Regions from separate parts of the Homo sapiens genome. Here region 1 is linked to region 2. Evidence: fine-mapped expression QTL. A gene starts in region 2. The other region holds a variant in brackets. All regions are shown on one strand. Distances are from middle to middle.

Region 1 (4,244 bases), 47 kb after region 2:
TCGAGGCTATTCCAGGAAGTCCATCCAGACAGAGCACGCCTTCCCCAGCCTCCTCTTATTGGCCTGCAGCCCTGCTCTCCCCACGTCTGGTGATCTGTAAAGAGGGCTTGTTCTGCGTGGGTGGGACCTGCTCTAGATCCATCTTGGAAAATGAGCTCATGCCGTTGGTGTAACCACCATTCCTGCCCCCATGCCACTCTGCCCCGGGGCCTGCTGGCTGACGTCCATGGTGCAGTCGTGATGTCCACGAGCCTGTCTGTGCCCTCGCTGCGGCCGACTCTCTCTAGGAGCGTCCCCACAGGATGCAGAACCTCCCTTTGAGCTCGGTGTTCCCTGCTCCTCACAGAGCCACCCCCAAGCCTTTCCCAGCTGTCCGCATCACCACTGTCCCGGGCTCGTTCACTTCAGGCCCTGGAGAGCCAGCCCAGCCCTCACTGGTGTCCGGAGTCAGTGATACACAGCGCTCAAGTGACTCTTCCCACCCACAGGAAGTGGGTGATGAGGTGCCCCCCGGGGGCTTCCCTTGCTGCTGCCCGCCAGGATCTCCCTGCTTGGGACTACAGCATGCGGGGGAGGTCAGGCTGGAGTTGGTGTGGGAGCCTTTCCCAGCCTTTCCTCTGCATTGGTGCCCTCCCCAGGAGGCATCTGAGCTGCAAAAGGGGCGAATGCGATGTAGACACTTGGGCCCCGGGACTCGCCTGTGTCATCTGGGCTGGGCCCCACAAACACCACAAACACCTTTTCCACCACGCAATAGATGGCTGCTGGGCTGCCCAGGGGTGTGATGTGGAGCTGGGAAACCCAGCCTGGGAAGGCAGCATTCCAGGAGCTGCTTTCCAAAAGAAGAATAGCCTCCACCAGGAAGGTGTGGCTGAGCCCCAGAGCCCCAGAAACCTGCGGGAAGCTCCAAAGGGGGGCCTGCCAGAGGATACACAACCACCCTACCTCCTGCACACGGGATCCTCCAACCAGACAGTGTGGCCCAAGCAGCCTGGCTACTTTCACCTTAGCCAGCAGCCCTGGGCCACACTGGGGATGGTCCCAAACATGGCCTGTGCTGCTGTCACGGTGCTAAGGGGCCTGGCAAGCACGGGGTCTTTCTTGCTGGACGGAGGCACAGGTGCCAGAATCTATCTTTTGCCCTACAGTGTCCCGGCACAGCCTAGATCTATGGACCCCTTCACCGGGTGCTTTATCCCCCACCCCCCAGAACTCCTGGGACCATTGAGATGCCCAGGAGATGGGGGGGCCCTGTGCCTGTGTCCCGTTGCTGCTATAGCAGCCACCACATCTACCAGCTCTGCAGGGTAGCCACCGGGCACGGCCTTGCCAGGCTGACGTCGAGGAAAGCCAGCCGTGCTGTGGGTTTCCTTCCCTCTGGCTCTCCACTTCTGCCTCCCTCTTCCACTGTTTTTGGTTTGGGTTTTTGTTTTGTTCCGTTTTGTTTTTTTTTGAGACAGGGTCAGCTGTCTTGCCCAGGCTGGAGTTCAGGGGCTATTCCCAGGTGTAACCCTAGCTCACTGCAACCTCCAACTGCTGGGCTTAAGTGATCCTCCTGCCTCAGCCTGAGTAGCTGGGACTACAGGTGTGTGCTCCCACGTCTGGCAAGCCTCTTTCAGTATAACTGTATGGGTTTTTCTCCATCTTTTTTTCGTCTTTACAATTTTTGTTCTCAAGGACTTGGGCTGTTTGACTTGAGTCTTCCAGTCTGGATTTTGCTGATAAGATGGAACACCTCGAGAGTGCATCTTTGTTAACATTTAGACATGCGTCCCCTCCTCGCTTGCTCAGTGGAATTACGATTGCACTTGGAAATGT[A/G]TCGTGTTGGGTGTGTTCCTTAAGCTGAACTTCCGTAGATCTGGCAGGACATTTAACACCAGAACACGAAGCCTGCTTCAGAAGTGACTGAAACGGCATCTGCCTCACAGTGCATATTTAAAAAATGATTTTGTTGTGTGAATAATTATGCTGCCATCTACAGATAAGTGAGATCAGAAACATTAGTTTCATATATTGTAGTTTTTAGTTTCTGAATACTTATTGGATTCTTTTTCTTTTTTTTTTGAGATGGAGTTTCGCTCTGTTGCCAGGCTGGAGTGCACTGGGGCTTGGCTCACTGCTACCTCCGCCTCCCAGGTTCAGGCAATTCTCCTGCCTCAGCCTCCTGAGTAGCTGGGACTACAGGCACCCACCACCACACCCAGCTAGTTTTTGTGTTTTTAGTAGAGACAGGGTTTCACCATGTTGGCCAGGATGGTCTCGATCTCTTGACCTTGTGATCCGCCCGTCTCAGCCTCCCAAAGTGCTGGGATTACAGGCGTGAGCCACCAGGCCTGGCTCCTTTTCCACTTTCATGGACCCTCGTGATTGCATTGGATCTCCCCGGGTAATCTGGGATGTTCTTCCTGGCCTAAGGTCAGCTGATTAGCAACCTTAGTTCATCTGCAGTCTCCATTCTCTTTTTGCTGAATCACGTCAAGTATTCACAAGTTCCAGGGGGCAGGAGGTGGACATCTTTGGGGGACATTATTCCGCCCACCAGAAAACCCAGGAGCAGCCACAGCCCCAAGACGAGGCAGGGAAGGAGTGCTGCTGTCTGCCGGTGAAGATGAACTGCTTCTGACCCTCCCGAGCGAGGATATTGAGAAGAAAGAATTTGCCAAGATGCTAGTCACACACCAAGTACAGAGGCTATGTTGGTCGGCTGCAGCAAAAAGACCACTCGCGGCGTGGCAGCTCTCACTGGCCCTGCTGCCTCTTCAAGTTGACTGCAGTCCATCACCCACGGTCATTATTAATTTGTTTTTGCAAAGGCCAGGCAGGTGAATCTAATGGAGATGGAAACCACCACACCTGCTTCCCTGGTCTCTGATGTTGGTGTTAACCTCTGCAATTCCTCAAGCAAAGCACTCCTTCTATCAGGCTCACTGTCTTGCTGGAGGGAGGAAGTTCCACAGGCTCTCACTTGGTTCTTTCTGCCGTAACAACCCTTACTCCTCCGGCCAAGGAGCCAATGTGAGCATTCAGCTGGCAGCTAAGAATGTGTATCCCAATAAACAGGGCAGACCTACAGACCCACTGGACCCACTAGAGATGGACTTGGGCCACAGTGCCTTCCATGACTTCAGTAAACAGAGGGGTGTGGTGATCTTGTCAAAGTCCTGGCGTCAATGTCAGTGTCCGGCTACACACCATGTTCCCGTCCTCGAAAAGCCTCTCTGTACCCCTCTATGTTGGTGACACAACCCTGGCAAATGGCCACAGACTCCTTTGGGGACAGAGTAGGAGCGTAACTGGTGGGAGTGGTTGGCATGCTTTGTATTGGGAGAGCCGCACGCCCTAGGGCTTCCAGCCTCCTCTTCAGTTTGGCAGCTGTGAGTCTGAATTTCACTCAAATCTGGAAACTGGGTGAGAGACTGTGGCAGCTGCTGTCCGGCTGGCAGAGCCTGACGTGTCTCTGATCATACTCACTGGGTCAGCAACACCCTACTGACCTTGTCCAGAATCCCACATCCCAGTTGATATCAGGGCAATCAGTTTCCTGGCTGTTTTCCCCAATATCAACCCGGGCTTACAGAAGACAGTCACCACAGAGCTCCTGCCAGGAGTTCACTCATTCGTGCATTTCTTCCTTTTTTTTTTCTTTTTGAGATGGAGTCTCGCTCTGTCGCCCAGGCTGGAGTGCAGTGGAGCGATCTCGGCTCATTGCAACCTCCGCCTCCTGGGTTCAAGCGATTCTCTTGCCTCAGCCTCCCAGGTAGCTGGGATAGCAGGTGTGTGCCACCATGCCCAGCTAATTTTTGTATTTTTAGTAGAGATGGGGTTTCATCATGTTGCCCAGGCTGGTCTCAAATTCCTGACCTCAGGTGATCTGCCCTCAGCCTCCCAAAGTGCTGGGATTACAGGCTTCAGCCACCACACCCAGCCTCATTCATACATTTCTTATTGTTGTTGTTTGAGACAGGGTCTTTCTCTGTCACCCAGGATGGAGTGCAGTGTTGTGATCATGCCTCAGTGCAGCGATCATGGCTCAGTGCAGCCTCAAACTCTTGGGCTCAAGCAGTGCTCCAACCTCAGCCTCCTGAGTAGCTAGGACTATAGGCACACAGCACCATGCCCCGGCTATTTTTTTATTTTGTAGAGATGGGGTCTCACTATGTTGCCCAGGCTAGTATTGAACTCCTGGCCTCAAGCAATCCTCCCACCTCGGCCTCCCAAAGTGCTGGGATTAAAGGCGTGAGCCA
Region 2 (4,518 bases):
TGGCTCAGGGACTCCACCCTGGCCCCGAGTCGCCGTCTGCTGGGCCTTTCCTTCCTGGCTCTGCACCCCATGCTGGCTGCCCGGTCTGGCTTCCCTTCTTGTCTCTGTCTTGGGCGAGGCAGCTGTGAGCATTGCACAGAGGCAAAGACCCTCCTGCAGCCTCTGCGCTGGGCCGTAGAAACAAGAGCCTTTGTAATACTGAACCTCATTCAAGGATTAGGAGTGGTGGTTAGGTCAGGGCCACCCCCAGTGCTGCAGGAACGGCCTCCACCCAGCTCTGTTGGTCAGAGCCTGGGTCATGCACCTGGAGTTGGGAGATCAAGTTGGGTCTCAGGGCAGTGAGGTGGCCATATCCACCACATCGCATTTCGTGGGGGAAGAGGTGACCTCTTTGTTTTAAACTTAAGGTGTCTGCTTATCCAGCCAGAAATAAAAATCTGCCAGTGGTGTTCCCAAGGGAAGACCCCCGTGGGAATGGGTCGGGACACTGCCGTGTTTCAGGTTAGCCAATTATTTTTGCTTTTGCCTGTTTTTCTTTAAGAATTGCAGCCAGGCCAGGCGTGGTGGCTCACGCCTGAAATCCCAGCTACTCGGGAGGCTGAGGCAGGAGAATCGTTTGAATCCGGGAGGTGGAGGTTGTGGTGAGCCAAGGTTGCGCCATTGCACTCCAGCCTGGGCAGTAAGAGTGAAACTCCGTCTCAAAAAAAAAATTCCAGCCAACAGATGCATATGTAATGTTGGAATCAGAAACGAGTTTACAAGAAATAGGGGGATGAGGAGAAGGTTGAACACACCGAGAGGAAGCCCTGAGCCAGATCCGGCTGGAGATGCCACCAGACGGCGACGTTTCTGTGGGAAGACGGGCACGCAGAAAGGCCGAGGGGGCTGTGTGTGACCCTGGTAGGAGCAAACCGAGTGCGAAGTCACTTTTGAGACAATCATGGAAATGTGGGCACGGGCCGTGAGTCGGGTGGGTAGGCCGTGAGTCGGGTGGATGGACTGAGTCGGGTGGGTGGGCCGTGAGTCGGGTGGATGGACTGAGTCGGGTGGGTGGGCCGTGAGTCGGGTGGATGGACTGAGTCGGGTGGGTGGGCCGTGAGTCGGGTGGATGGACTGAGTCGGGTGGGTGGGCCGTGAGTCGGGTGGATGGACTGAGTCGGGTGGGTGGGCCGTGAGTCGGGTGGATGGACTGAGTCGGGTGGGTGGGCCGTGAGTCGGGTGGATGGACTGAGTCGGGTGGGTGGGCCGTGAGTCGGGTGGATGGACTGAGTCGTGTGGGTGGCCGTGAGTCGGGTGGGTGGGCTGTGAGTCGGGTGGGTGGCCGTGAGTTGCGTGGTGGGCCGTGAGTTGCGTGGGTGGGCCGTGAGTCGGGTGGGTGGGCCGTGAGTCGGGTGGGGGTGCGGAATTGGCTGCTAGCGGTGATGGTGACACAGGGTTACGGAGGAATCCTCACTCAGATGCATTTGGACGTCTTTGTGGGGAAATGACGTGGCGCCTGGGATGTACTTTACGATTCTAATAAAGAGGAGAAAGACACAACAGTATTGGCTGAATGTTGACAGCTGTTGAAGCCGGGAGGTTGGTGTGCTTAAAAGTTCCCCAAATCTTTTATTTGCAGCATGAGTATGAGTTTCTTCGTGCTCACGGAAGATTGTAGAGAGCAGCTGTCGGTCATGGAGTCACAGGGCTGCCTTACCAGGACACCACCGGCAGCCCCACAGACAACACAGGTTTATTCTCTCCAGCTCTGCAGGCTGGAAGTCCGAGGTAGAGGTGCCAACAGGGTCCGTTTCCGGCGAGCGCCTCCTGGTTCAGAGGCATCCTCATGTCAGGAGGGGCTTTGGTGTCACCTTTTCCTTGTGAGGGCCCGGATCCCATGACCCCTATCACCCCATCGAAGCCAAATCACCTCCCAGAGACCTCCTCATACCATCACGTCGGGCCTAGGGCTTCCACATGGGAATTTCAGAGTGACCATTCAGCCCGTAGCAGAAGCTCCTCTGGGTCTGTCCTGGCCCACAGACCCTGTGTAGGAAAAGCACTTGCCCCTGCGGGGCAGGCCCTGGCAGAGCCCGGTGAGGCAGTGAGGGCCCTGCAGGATAAGTGGAAATCTCCCCAGGGGGGATATGGGGGTGCCTTTCTCTTACAGAGTCCAGGCTGGTAAAAGCGCATGTGTGTTTCGTGTCTGGTTTGTCCCCTGCCCAGCGGGCGCCGTTGGAAGGGCCTTCAGGTGCTTGAGCACAGGTGGGGACGGAGCAGCTGGTGTCTCGGCAGTAGATGCGGCGGATCATAAGGACTTGGGTTTTGAGCGCCCTGCAGGAAGCCACTGGCCGCGTCCAGGGTCACCTGTGCCTGGTCGTTAGTCCCTCACAATGCTGTCACTTTGTGACGCTCTTGTGCAGGATTAAATGTGAACAGCAGAGACGTGGGTGATGCGCTGCCTCGTCAGATGATGGTCAGTTGTCCAAGCGGGCTGCCTTGCTCTTGGTGGCCTCATCATCCAGGGCTCACACACTGGATGGTTGGGCCACAGTCGCGGTACCCCCCGGGCTGCAGGCTTTCCACCCTGCTTAGCAGGGCTCCAGGGCTCCGGGTAGAGCAGGGGGTCCCTCCCTTGGCACTTCCCCAGGGAGGAGCACGACCGTGCTCAGCTGCGGTCAGGCTGCTGCTCTTAGTTGTCTTTCCTTCTAACACTCAGGCTTCCCTTCCTGCCTCCTGGGTCGCTGAAGAAGGTCAGGTCCACAGAAAAGGCCTGGGGAGAGAATGGTGGTGAGGAGCCCATGGGGGTGTGAGGGGCCGGGAGGCTCTGCATCTTGCCCTGTTGGCCTCCTCACCACCCAGGCGGGGGTGGGGTGACAGAAGGGGCTCACAGCAGGTGTCCCGTAAGGAGCATCTTCCTTCCTGGGGCCAGCAGCCGTCACTCCCTGTGAGCCTGTAGAGCCGAGTTTTCTCTGCATTTATCTTGGGCAGAGAATGCATGAAGCTACTTCGCGGCCAGAATGGGTGCACAGCAGGGTCCGTTGACAGCCATGCCTGTGACCTAGCCTTCCACCCCTCTGTCTCCAGGGGACACTTGCCTGGCCTTTGTGTTAGCGCTCAGCACACATGTGTCCAGTGTAAAGTCCACCAAGATTAGCAGGGCATGGTAGCTGCCGCCTGTAATCCCAGCTTCTCAGGAGTCTGAGGCAGGAGAATTGCTTGAACCTGGGAGGCGGAGGTTGTAGTGAGCCAAGATCGTGCCACTGCACTCCAGCCTGGGCGACAGAGTGAGACTCCATCTCAAAAAAAAAAAAGTCCGTCGAGAGAGCAGGTGGCGGATGCAGCTGAGAGCTCCAGGAATGGGAGGGCCACGTGGTAGCCACTGGCAGCCTTGACTGAAAGATGAAGGAGTCCATGGTGCTAGGAGGAGGAGTTGCATCCCAGCAGGCTCAGCTCCTGGAGCTGCCTCTCTGCACTCTGAAGGGAGGCCCAGTGGCTGCAATATTCTTCTTTGGGAAGTACAATGCCAAGTAAATAAAGATATTTGGGGTCATTCTAGTTACAACGTATCATAAACTCTACTCACTGTTGTTCTGGGTGTTCATGGGGTCCGCCGTGCGTACCAGTCTTACAGGTCCTCAAACCCATTGGGACCCTTCAAACGAAGAGTGTGCGTGTGGAGTTGGCAGAACCTGACCCGGGCCAGGGTGGAGGGACAGCTGCGTCACTGAGTGCATGTCCAGCCCTAATAGCTCGCTTCGTTGTGTTTGTATCTGTGACCTCTTGGGAGCTAAATCACAGGCCCACCAAACGAAACGTTTTGGGGAATGTGAAATGGGTGGGTTTTGAGCTGGTCCCCAGTGTGAGCTTAATGTTGGAGCCATATTGGATTTTAAAACTTCAGAGGCTCCTTTTCCCGGGGCCAACCATCCTATGTAAAATTCGAGGGCCGATGGTGGAAGCCTGGAGTCCGGTTACAGTGGTAACTCCATGAGGGGAGACCAGCTGTCATGCACCTGAGCACCCAGAATCACTCACACTCCCCACTCCTCCCCTCCCCACACGTGCACACTTAGGAAGTGTGGCAGCCTGACTGCAGGAGAGCCATGATACCACACACAATCCAAACAAAGGCAGAGCAGCCCCGCCTTAGGACAGGTGAGCCTGTGGCCTGCACACCCATTGCCACAGCTGGAGGGCTGTGTCCTTTCCACAGAGGGGTCGGCCAGCCTCGTCTTCTGATCACACTACTTCAAAGGTGCTCAGTCCACTCACCCCACCTCCAGCTGCAGTGTCTCCACCGGGGACCACGACCACCATGTCCATGTTCAAGCAATTCTCTGCCTCAGCCTCCCAAGTAGCTGGGATTACAGGCACCCGCCACCACGCCCAGCTGATTTTTGTGTTTTCAGTAGAGACGGGGTTTCACCATCTTGGCCAGGCTGGTCTTGAACTCCTGACCTCGTGATCCACCCGTCTCGGCCTCCCAAAGTGCTGGAATTACAGGGATGAGCCACTGTGCCCAGCCACCTCAGGGCC

What was found. PIP is the estimated chance that this variant, and not a neighbour inherited with it, causes the effect. A credible set is the group of variants that fine-mapping cannot tell apart.
Region 1: its variant is the best candidate, but not a certain one, in a credible set for the expression of LINC02878 in whole blood (TOPMed, PIP 0.57).

What each region holds. Positions count from the first base shown.
Region 1 is chr8:143,741,793-143,746,036 of GRCh38, forward strand. All of the region lies in intron 3 of IQANK1 (IQ motif and ankyrin repeat containing 1), which reads left to right. Among named protein-coding and RNA genes, the nearest start is that of IQANK1, 9.8 kb to the left of the region's middle. The variant A/G (reference allele first, on the strand shown) is at 1,819.
Region 2 is chr8:143,694,873-143,699,390 of GRCh38, forward strand. It overlaps LINC02878 (long intergenic non-protein coding RNA 2878), which reads left to right and starts at 2,243. Exons shown (of 2, transcript NR_015445.1): 1 at 2,243-2,769; 2 at 3,067-3,541. ZNF707 (zinc finger protein 707) reads left to right here. Exons shown (of 6, transcript NM_001100598.2): 6 at 1-513.